Regions from separate parts of the Homo sapiens genome. Here region 2 is linked to region 1. Evidence: fine-mapped expression QTL. Tissue or cell type: whole blood. Region 1 holds a variant in brackets; the other region holds the start of a gene. All regions are shown on one strand. Distances are from middle to middle. Region 1 overlaps MIR646HG (MIR646 host gene). Region 2 holds the start of MIR646HG (MIR646 host gene).

Region 1 (5,388 bases):
CATTTTGTAATGTCTGGAGACATTTTTGGTTATCCTCACCAAAAATGGAGAGGGTGCTAATGACAACTAGTGGGTGCAGGCTGAGCACTGCTGAACATCCTACAATGCCTAGGATACCCCTCCCCCCAACCACACACACCACCCAAAGAGTGACCTGCCGTGGCATGTCAATTGTGCAAGGCTGAGCAGCCCTGCTCTAGACCAGAAGCCCACTGAGGACAGGGACTTGGTCATACTGGTGCAACTCTGTATCCTCTTTGCCCATTTTACTGCTTGGTAACTAGTAGTTACTCAGTAAATTTTGCAATGTATCAAACAAGCATTAACCTTCAAAGCCATTATTGCCAATGTGACAGGTTGAATATAGTATCTTGTTTTAATTTTTATTTACTGAATTACTGGAGAGGCAAAGGTTTCTGGTTTTTACATGTTTATTGATCATGATCACCTATATTTCTTCTTTTGTGAACCAACCCTTTTTTCCTTTGCTTACATGAATGTACTAATGCCTATTCAACTCTCTGTTAATATAGTTGGGGTTATGAATAGTAATGAGATTATTTGAGGAAAAAAACCCATGGATAGTATATAACACTGGACAAATAGAGACCTTATTATCATTTTATGCTGCCCAAGCAGCCTGCCCTTAGGAAAAAGTCCAAGGTGCTTTATACAGGCTGCTCACTGCACAAGAGGGCAAGGGGAGCGCCAAAATCCACCCAGCACTCTGCCCTCTCAGATGCCAAACGGTCACCAGGTTGGTGTGCCTGGAGCAGAGCCTCCTATCTCTGTTTGCATTTGCCCTTCAACGGTGTGATAGCTTGAGCATATCTTGGTACTTTTCAAAATGCATTCATACATGTGGTTTATTTTGGTCCTTACATAACCCTGTAAGAATGCTTGGGGTTGCTCTTTCTGGCAGGTGAGGATCCAAGCTGGTTGCACCTCAGAGACGCTGGCAGTTTCAGAGGGCAGATACTTGGATGCTGCTTCTGCACCCCTGCACTGTGTCTCTTCCCAAGGGCCTAGCATTAAAGGAGTCTCGGGGGGAACCTCTGCTGGGTGAGCCTCCTTTCAGCACGCAGAACCTAAGCTTCACATGGACCGATGGGACTGCATTTGTGAAAGGAGAGGACCTTTATTCTCAAAGAGATCAACCTCGCCTGAATGTAAGCAGGTCTTGGGGAACTCCTGTGGTTCTCTCTTTTCAAGGTTTTCCATGAGACACAGTCCAGCAACACAAGAGGTAACCATATCTACATGACCCTCGGAACCTTTGGGAGTGATGGATGCCTAAGAATCTCATGAAAACTGTGGACCAGGAAAATATACCTGCTTTCAGGGGCTTCAGGGTCCCTGGAGAGTCTGTTCAGGCCTCTCTGGGCTCCAGGAGTCCTTGGTTAAAAGCTGCAACTTATACAAAATTTGATTTTCATGGTCATGTCAAGGGATGCCAGAAATCAACGTAAAATTACCCAGGTGGCTTGAGTGCCTGCAGATACCAAGTTCTGTGCTCTTCCCACTTCTGCATCTTTGCATCTTTGCACATGCTGTGCCTTTCAAGGGAAATGCACCTGCCTGTTTTGAAGACTCGTATTGACAGCTCAGATGTCACTGTCTCTATCACGGATCTCCCTGGGGGCAGGGTTGAGCATCACTTTCCAATTCCCACAGCCCTTCCTTCACATCCTTTTCACTGTACTCAGAGTTCTAGTTATTTGCTTATATATTTGTTTTTCCAAGTAGACCGTGAGATGCTTACTAGCAGGAATCATGTCTTAGTTTTCTTGACTTGCCTTTGTTAGCCCTGTTTGCAGCCTGGAATATAGTTACATAACAAGTGTTGCAAAAATGGCAAAGTGCAATAAAGCATGGGGTTTTCATCAATTAAAAGGGTGTAGGAGATAGGAGATTCGTACAAGTGACCCTTATGTCTACGTATTGGGACAAGATTATATGTACCTGTTGGGCAGGTATCCAGTGCCTAGTCAGCACAGATGATTTGTGACTCTTCTTAAAAAAATCATTTCCTCCAAATACTGTAGACTTCTCTCAAATCAAACTCTACAAACTCTAATTCAAGAAGCACCAGCCAACCTGTTCCCTGACAGATGGGTGTGGCTTGAGCTTGGGCAATGTCAGCTTCTGTAGGCGCCCACATGGGACAAATGGCCCATGTCTGGGACAGTGCCCAGCATCTGGAGCTATGTTGGCCCTTTGAAGATTCATCTCAATGTCCCTGAACTGCTGGGGAGGAAACAGCAATGGTGTTAAGTTGTCTGGTATGAATTACTGCTGCAAATAAATCTGACAAACCAACGGTCATGGTGAGAAGAATTGCCTCAGACACACACTGTCAGCCTGCTGGGTTAACCTCCATCTTTAAGTGGGAGGAAAAACAAGCATAACTATCTCTAAGAACAGAAGGAAAAAATCCTTCACTGGAGGTCTCTGTCCAAACGCTATGACTCAATGGTTCTATCCAGACTTATCACCCTGGGGAACCTGGAGAGATCCATTTCCTGTGAGAGAGAAAGAGAACTGAATTCCAGCCATTCCTTCCCCACCACCTCCTTCTCTTCTTCCTTACTGGCACCATTCATCTATATGATAGTGTAGCCTTTTCTTGCTCATCTTTCTTTCCCATGCCATACAATATTCTCTAAAACATTTGTTCATAGCTGCATAGCATGCCTTCAAATGGTGGTGCCCTAATTTGGATACCACTCCTTTATTCTTGGGCTCCTAAGTTTTTTTCTCAATATTCACCATTGTAACTATCACATCTCTGACATCCTTGTTCTTAATTTGCCTTCATCTGAGATTATTTTTCGGGATACTTTCCTGCAAGTTTGCTATATAAGTAACATCAAATTACTCTCCATGGTGAAATCTACTAATTTATGCTCCCTGGCCCGATGGGTTTTCCATTCCACCTTTCCTTGATCACCAAACATCATTACAGCTTTCAAAATATCTCCCAAGCTTCTAAGTGAGAAATGGAATGTTGCTATAGAATTCTTTCCATTTCTGGTAACTTCAAACATTTGTATCTTCTTTCGTGATTACCTAATCACATCTTTTAACCATCTTTTTATTGAGGTGCTTCTCACTTTCTTATTTAGAAGATCTCTTTGGGTATTAA[T/G]AATATTATGCACATATAATGCAGATAGTTTCTCCAAGTTATTACTTCCCATTTGACCCTGCAATCACTCATACTCATGGATTCTATTTTGGTGCAAGCCGCCAGTAGGGATCCAACTTTGTTTTATTATAAATGATCTCACATCTGTTGAATTAACCACTTCGTGTTAATTTTAAAAATAATTTTACTATTATTTTAACTGACATATTATAATTATATACAGTTGTGGAGTACAATTTGATGTTTGGGTATACGTATACAACATAGGCTGATTCAATCAACCAAATTAACATACCCGTCACCTTGTGCCATTCATTTTTAATGTCATTCTTATCACACACAATTCATGGGTTTGCTTCTAAGTTTTGAATCTGTCCTGGTGATATTTGTGATTATTTCTGGATAATAAGAGACTATTTTAACTTACTGTTCATATTTTGTTAAGACAATCCACCTCTGCGCTTCCCCTCCCTCCCTTTCTCCTTCTCTTGTTTTATCCCTCCTTCCCTTTCTCTCTCTCTCTCTCATAACTTTTTGGCTGACTTTATCCACTTTTTCATCTTGAAAAACTTTAAAATCATATTGTTAAGATTCAAAAAGCCTTACATAAGAACTTTCATTGGAATTTCACTAAATTTAAAGTTTGATATTTTTACGACATCAGACCTTCTCACTTAAGACTATGATGCCCTCTCCATTTCTTCATTGTCTTTTATATTTCTCAGTACAGTGCTATAATATTTTTATGAAGTCCTGTACGTTTCTTTTTGAGATTAGCCTGAGGTATGTTACGTTTTTGTGGCCATTATCCCTGGAATCTTTATTTTATTTTTTTAACTGGTTATTGTGGGTAAAGACACGCATTGATTTTCTATTTATTAATAGGTGATTTAATGAGCCCTTGTTACGTATCTCAGTAGCTCTTCTGTTTTCCAGGTAGACTTTTTTCTGTATGGTAGTAATAATCATCATCTCTATTTTTCTAACAGATCATTTTAGGATGCTTAATTACTTTTGATAGAACAATGACAAATACAAAGCTTATGGGGATTCTTACCTTTATATAGACAATAATGGTATGCTTCAAGTGGTACTGCCTAAAGATAGATAGTCTTTACCATGACAGCAACTTTCTTCTGATTTGAGTTTATTAGGAAAATGTGTCAGAAAAGAATGTTGAATATTATCAGATGCCTTTCTATGCCTACATCCATGTAGAAGGTGATGACAGGATTTTCCCATGTAACCTCTAATAAGATGCATTATTCTAGTTATATAAGTACTTCTGTCAGTATTCCTTTTATCTTTAACTTTTCTTTATCACTTTATGCTGGAGTGTCTTTTAGACATATATAATTGGATATATATGTACCTGTAGGAGATATTTTATCATTTGATAGAAAGTTTAACACATTTACATTTTTGTTGCAATGGATATGATATACTTGATCTTCTTCTTGTCATTCTATTTCCGTATTCTGTATTTATGCCTCTTTTTTTCTTTGCTGTATGGATTATATTGCCTTTAATCATTTCTTAGTAATCTTGAAGACATATGTCCATTTTTATGGCCATGAATAGTTACCTTTAAGTGTTAAGAAAACACCTAAACTTCTGTTTATCTGTAGTTATCAGTATAAAGAAGAATAAATATCCATTGTATCCCCTTCACATAATACAAGGGACACACAGTTAAGAATGTTTTGGCTAAACAAACAAACAACAACAACAACAAAAACAAAGCTGTGCTCAATGTATCTTAAATAATTAAAGGCTTATTTCTCTAAAATGACAAGAAATCTGAACATAGTCAGTTCTTGGCATTGGTTTAGTAGATCAACAATATAAGAGTCAACATCTTTGCAAATCTCTTCCTCGTGGTAATAAAATGGCTGCTCCAGTTCCAGACATCATATTGACATTCAAGGCAGTAAGAATAAGGGAAGATCTGTGCCAGCCATCTCTATCCCAGGACCCAATACCTAGAAGACTTCACTTAACATCTCATTGGCCAGAACTCTGGCACATGCCCCTCCCCACAAACACAGAGGGCACTCAGAGAGGGAGCATCTCTTCTGCCTGGATGGTATAGGTGAAAAGAAAGGTGTGCCAGCCTCAGGAGAATTAGCACCTGTGAGCTCTTCCCACTTCAATGTCCTCTGTAGGGACTTTCCTACAAAATAAATATTTTCCTTTACAAATTATAGCATTGCATTATCAGTTAAACTGAAGGATAATATAGC
Region 2 (5,388 bases), 96 kb before region 1:
GCCCACCTTTGTTTTGTACTGAAGGCTGCATCTCCCCAGTTTGCAAACTGCTTGTGCAAATAGAGTCTCTGTTAACCTAATGCTTCTTTCTCAGGTGTTTGGTTAACACTTGTACATGGTAGGCATTCTGTCTATATTTGTTGGGCAGATGTGTGCGTCGAAGTGGTTAAACTTTCCCAGCCAGAGTGGGCATCTCCTCTGGGGTAAGGAGTTGGTGACATGCAGGTACCTGAGGCCCTGCCATGGGTGCATGGGCTGTGATTGTCCATAGACCACGTTAACTTAAACTTCTGGTCTAACACATAGAGTGGGCATCTTCCTAGGAAACCCTGGAAAAGCAGCAGATAGGACTGGCTCTCAGCAGTGACGAAAAGCAATAAGAGGACAAAATGTGGTACTTTACACAATGGAGTACTATTCAGCCATAAAAAAGAATAAGAACCTGTCATTTGCAACAACAGGGATGGAATTGGAGGTCATCATCTTAAGTGAAATAAACCAGGCACAGAAAGACAAACATCACATGTTCTCACTTATTTGTGGGATCCAAAAATCCAAACAATTGAACTCATGGAGATAGAGGGTAGAAGGATGGATACTAGAGGCTGGGAAGTGTTGCGGGGGTGAGGAGGACGGACATGGGGATGAATAAGACCTAGTGTTTGATAGTACAATAGGGTGAGTAGAGTCAACGATAATTTAATTGTACATTTAAAAATAGCTAAGAATATAATTGGATTGTTTGTAACACAAAGGACAAATGCTTGAGGAGATGGATACTCCATTTTCCATAGTGTGATTATGGTGCATTGCATGCCTGTATCAAAACATCTCATGTTCCCCATAAATATATACACCTACTGTGTACCCATAAAAATGTAAAAAAATGATTAAAAGTCTAGATATAATTTAAAAGAGGAAACTGTCTTTGTGTGGAGGCCAGCTGAAGACAGATACTGCATCAGGCACTTGGCAGCCTGGTTTCCAGTAGCTTCTCAACCCAGTGGAGTAGACTCTATGGCCCCATTTTGCAGATGAAGAATGGAGGTGCAGAGAAATCACAGCTCTAGCTTTGTCAGGAGGACCATAGAGGTCCAGGGGCTGGAGGTCTGAATATTTAATAGAGGGATTTGAATAACCATGGAAGTTAGCCTGGAGAGAGATTTAGGAGGCAGATAAGCCTAGTGTTCACTGTGGGGGCAGATGCCTTCCCCATCTGTGCAGACGATTGGCCCAAGTGGCCATGATGACATGGCTCCTACCTACTTCCTAATGGACCTCAGAGAATTAAACAGCGAGGACAACAGCGAGTGTTGTCTCTCAGACCCTTGGCTTTTTCAGGACTGCCTGACCTTTCTTTGTCCTTATTTGGCTTCAAGTCAAGTCAGCTCAACCCTGATTGAGCACCGGCAATGAGTCATGTCTGTGAAGGCGACACAGCCCCTGTCCTTGAGGAGCTTCGAGTCCAGTGACTGTCACTTCAGTGGAAGTTGGGCTGGACACAGTCACATGTGTATGCCAGACATGAGGCTTTGTTCTCATTACAATAATTGCCCTGCATTATTCTAGCAATTAAGCTTCTCCACGTGTGTGGATGCATGTTCCCAATTTTTTCTGGCCTCTACCGAACACAATGTTAATATTTGAGAGCAGTCCTAAAAAATTAAATAATTATACAAACTGAATTAGGATAGCATAATATTACCAATCAGAGTAATGTGGCTTTGTAATCCAGTGTGATGTCATATGAATCTACAAATTAGGAAGCATGTCAGAGGAGGAAACCACATCCTTTATTGCTTTGCCTTAAATAGCTTAAAACTAATCTTTTCCATGAGCCAACAGCTATCTCTCATGTTTAATAATGCTCCTCCCTGCCCAGATGAAGCTAACTAAATGATGTTGCCCCCTGCACCTGCAAATGCCTGGTGCCAGGGCAGGGACACAGGGAATGGCAGAAGGGGAGACCAGATGTTGGCTGAGGCATTGATTTATGGGCATGACCTTCCATGTGCCCCGAGGATGGCTGAGACCAGGGTTTGATGAATGCAGTGCTCTGTGTGAGAAGTTCTAAGGTGACAAGCAAAGATTCTATCCTCTGGAGGGGCAAGCCCTATTATTAGGTTGGTGCAAAAGTAATCGCAGTTTATGCAGTTGTAATGGCAAAAACAGAAATTACTTTTGCACCAACCTAATACCAGACAGAGGAGGTGCAAGTGCATGCCACCAGGGCAGGTGCAGGTGATGGGGGCAGAGAAAACTCAGATGTCTCCAATCTGTGCAGAGTAGGGAAACAGAAAAAGCTAAGTGAGGAAAGTGAGATTGCTATCACACAGATGCATGTCTTAGGTTTTCTGATTCCATTCCTCATGAATTTCATTAAGTAATCAAAGTGCTAAGCATGAAATGTGGGTATGCTGTCACCAGGTGGCAGCAGCATCCACTCTCCAAAATGCATTTTGTTCAAACCTAGTATGTGCTGGGTATTCTGAGCACATAGCAGAGACTAAGGCAAAGAGTCCCTGGCACTGTGGAGCTTAGAGGCTAATGAGGTGGCAGGTGCTTACACTTTAGAAACCGTTGTGAGGAATAGCTAGTGGTAGTTAAATGATACAGTGATAGTTAACAGAGAGGAAAGCTTTTCTCTCACTCCAAGCTATATTTTTATTATCACTATTAATATAAATAGAAAATAAATATTAAAATAGTTATTAAATAAGCAAAAGATAATGTTGCATTTAGTTATACGATTAAGTAGAGGTTTTCAAATATTTTTTAGCTTTGTGCAACCGAAATTATATGAGGAAGCAAAAACCACAAATACAGAAAATAAGAACTTTTCTGTTTGAACAGAAACGAGGACACTGGGGAGGCCCTTCCAATGCAGGCCAGACTTTTAGGGGCTCGACAGAACACAGCTGGAGAAACATCCACACCACACGCGGTTTCACCTGCCACACGGCAGCCCGGGTGCCCGGATCACTGTGTGTGGAGACTCAGGCTCACCGGCAAACCTCTTCCGGTTCCGGTCAGGGTGCTGCCTCCCTATCCACTGGGAGTCCTTTTGCGTTTCAGATGCTCCCAGGCTCTCCCGCAGTTTAAAGACTTAACTCAGCGGCTTTCAGGGCCTGTGGTTGAGGGACTCCGAAAGAACTGTTGCTGGTGGACCGGTTCAGGGTCTTGACTTCGCCACACAAAAGAACTTGAGAGCACGTCCAAAGTAAAGGTAAGCAAGGGAGTTGATCGCACAGCGAAAGCGCACTCTGCCAGCGGATCGGAGCGGCCGCTCAAAGGCGAGGCAGTGCTGGCCGACACTGGGGAAACCCCCTTTATGGGGGTCTTACATGATTATTCATGAAGGGCTGGGAAGGGGTGTTGCCGTGAAGCATGTTCTGGGCTGTCTCCTGGTGGCACATGTGCTGTGGTTGTGCATGCTAGTACACACATCGCATGTCTCGTTAGCATCGTAAATCTCCACCCAGTTCTTTAGTATTCTAATGAGCGCAGGTCAGCCCAAGGACACTCATCTTGGGTTTCTGCACTTGGATGAATTCGCGGATTTTTCCTTCGCTCTTTGACCTCCTCGCTAAAGGATGGTCTAACCACGAGCCTGGGATGCGGCTTGTGCACCGCAGGTGGCTTGTTCTCGCCATCTATTTAGCAAGTTTGCTCTCCTTTAAGTGAGGCTGTGACCACCCTCTCTGACCTACCTCAGAACCTGTTGCTTAGCTTCAGAAATCCAGCCTGGTGCTGGGCTGAGGTCAGCCTGAGGTCAAGCCATGCCCCTGAGACTTAACTGCCCTTGGATACCAATTTTCAGCAACAGAAAAGAATGAAAATAAAGTTCACATGAGGGCTAGTGCTGCTGGCAATGAGAAGGTCCTGTGACTACTTTTATTACCACTTCAACGATAAGGAGGTGACCTTTCATTCTCATTTCTCTCTCTCTAATATTTTGCATTCTCCAACTGTTATCTGTAAGAACATCTTAGCGCATTTGAAAAGCAGGGAAAATATGTAATAAAAACCACAACCAACCACACCATCTTAATGATAGCACTATTATTTTGTAATTCCTTCCAGTATCTTTGCCCAAGGTTTATTACTTGTTGAGTATTTGCAATTGTCCTCAGTAAAATTCTGAGACATGATTTTTAATTTAACATACCTTAAGATTTTTGTTTGCAGGTGGCTGAATTTCTTCAGAAAAATTATTTTAAGGGCTACTCAACACTGAGCAGTTAGTATTCATTCAGGTGGCCATTCTCTGATGCCTGTATTGCTTCCAGCTGTTGGGAAATGAACCCAGTGGAGAATATTGTTTTTCTTTTGCTAACAACAACATCCGTTAGGACAGATTTCCACATGTCTGATTGCTGGGCCGATGACACAAACATCGACAATAGCGCTTCACGCGTGTTGACTGATGATTTCCAAAAGCTTATCTTCCCAGTAGGCAGTTTGCCAGATGCTTCCAGAAATAGATGAGAATGCCAATTTCATCACACTGTTGCCAGCACTAGGTATGTCCACTACATTTTAATGCTAGTGTAATAGGCAAAGGGGACCTGCTGTCTGTTTCACCATTCATTTCTTTGCATGGTTGTCAGGTGGGACATTGCATTCTCCTGGAGAGGCCAGATCACTATGTCTCCCAGGAGGCCCTAGCAGAAGCTGCTCTGGTGTCCAGCTCCTGTGTGAAGCCTCCCTGGTCCCTGACTCTTGGAACAGACTTCTTTTCTGCCCTTTAAACACCCCTAACATCATGCGTGGTCCTTTGCTATGACACAGTTGTTCCCCATTCTGCATCGTCATGAGGCTGTCTACACCCTCTCTCTCTCCTGGGCAGGGCTCCGGCTCTGCAGGGGATGGGGACGTGTGTTACTCTGTTAGTCCCCTGCCTTGTCCAGCACAGCACTGTACATGCCACAGAGGCCCCACAGAGCTTGATCAAAAACTAACAATGATTAAACCAAAATTACGAATGGACAAAAAATTTCCATCAAGAAACCTCAACATTTTAATGTTCATGAGGGGGGAATGTAGGGTAAATGCACCTGATAGTAATAAGCATACCCTTAGAATGACCCTGTATGGCAGATGCGCCTAAATGTGTGTTCTGTGCTAGGGAATCCAGGAGTGGCCAACCCGGAGATTGATTCTGTGTCTATGATAAACATCTGAGCCCCTGGCCTGTTCTGTGGAACGTGGGCCGTTCACGGGATTGAGGCCCTGAGTTTGGGATTGGATGAAGGTTGCCAGGGCGAGGTTACCAGGAGGGTGTTAAGTGAAAATGGTATGTACATGACATGCTGTTCAGAAGAGGTTACAGTTTTCCTGCCCGGCCCGCCACCACTGGAGCATTTCTGTACATAAGGTGATTTCCCT

The links. PIP is the estimated chance that this variant, and not a neighbour inherited with it, causes the effect.
Region 2: MIR646HG starts here. The variant in region 1 is fine-mapped to the expression of MIR646HG in whole blood (INTERVAL, PIP 0.94).

Annotation. Positions count from the first base shown.
Region 1 is chr20:60,230,969-60,236,356 of GRCh38, forward strand. The region is part of intron 3 of MIR646HG (MIR646 host gene); the gene reads left to right. Among named protein-coding and RNA genes, the nearest start is that of MIR646, 75 kb to the right of the region's middle. The variant T/G (reference allele first, on the strand shown) is at 3,146.
Region 2 is chr20:60,135,419-60,140,806 of GRCh38, forward strand. MIR646HG (MIR646 host gene) reads left to right here and starts at 3,074. Exons shown (of 5, transcript NR_046099.1): 1 at 3,074-3,226.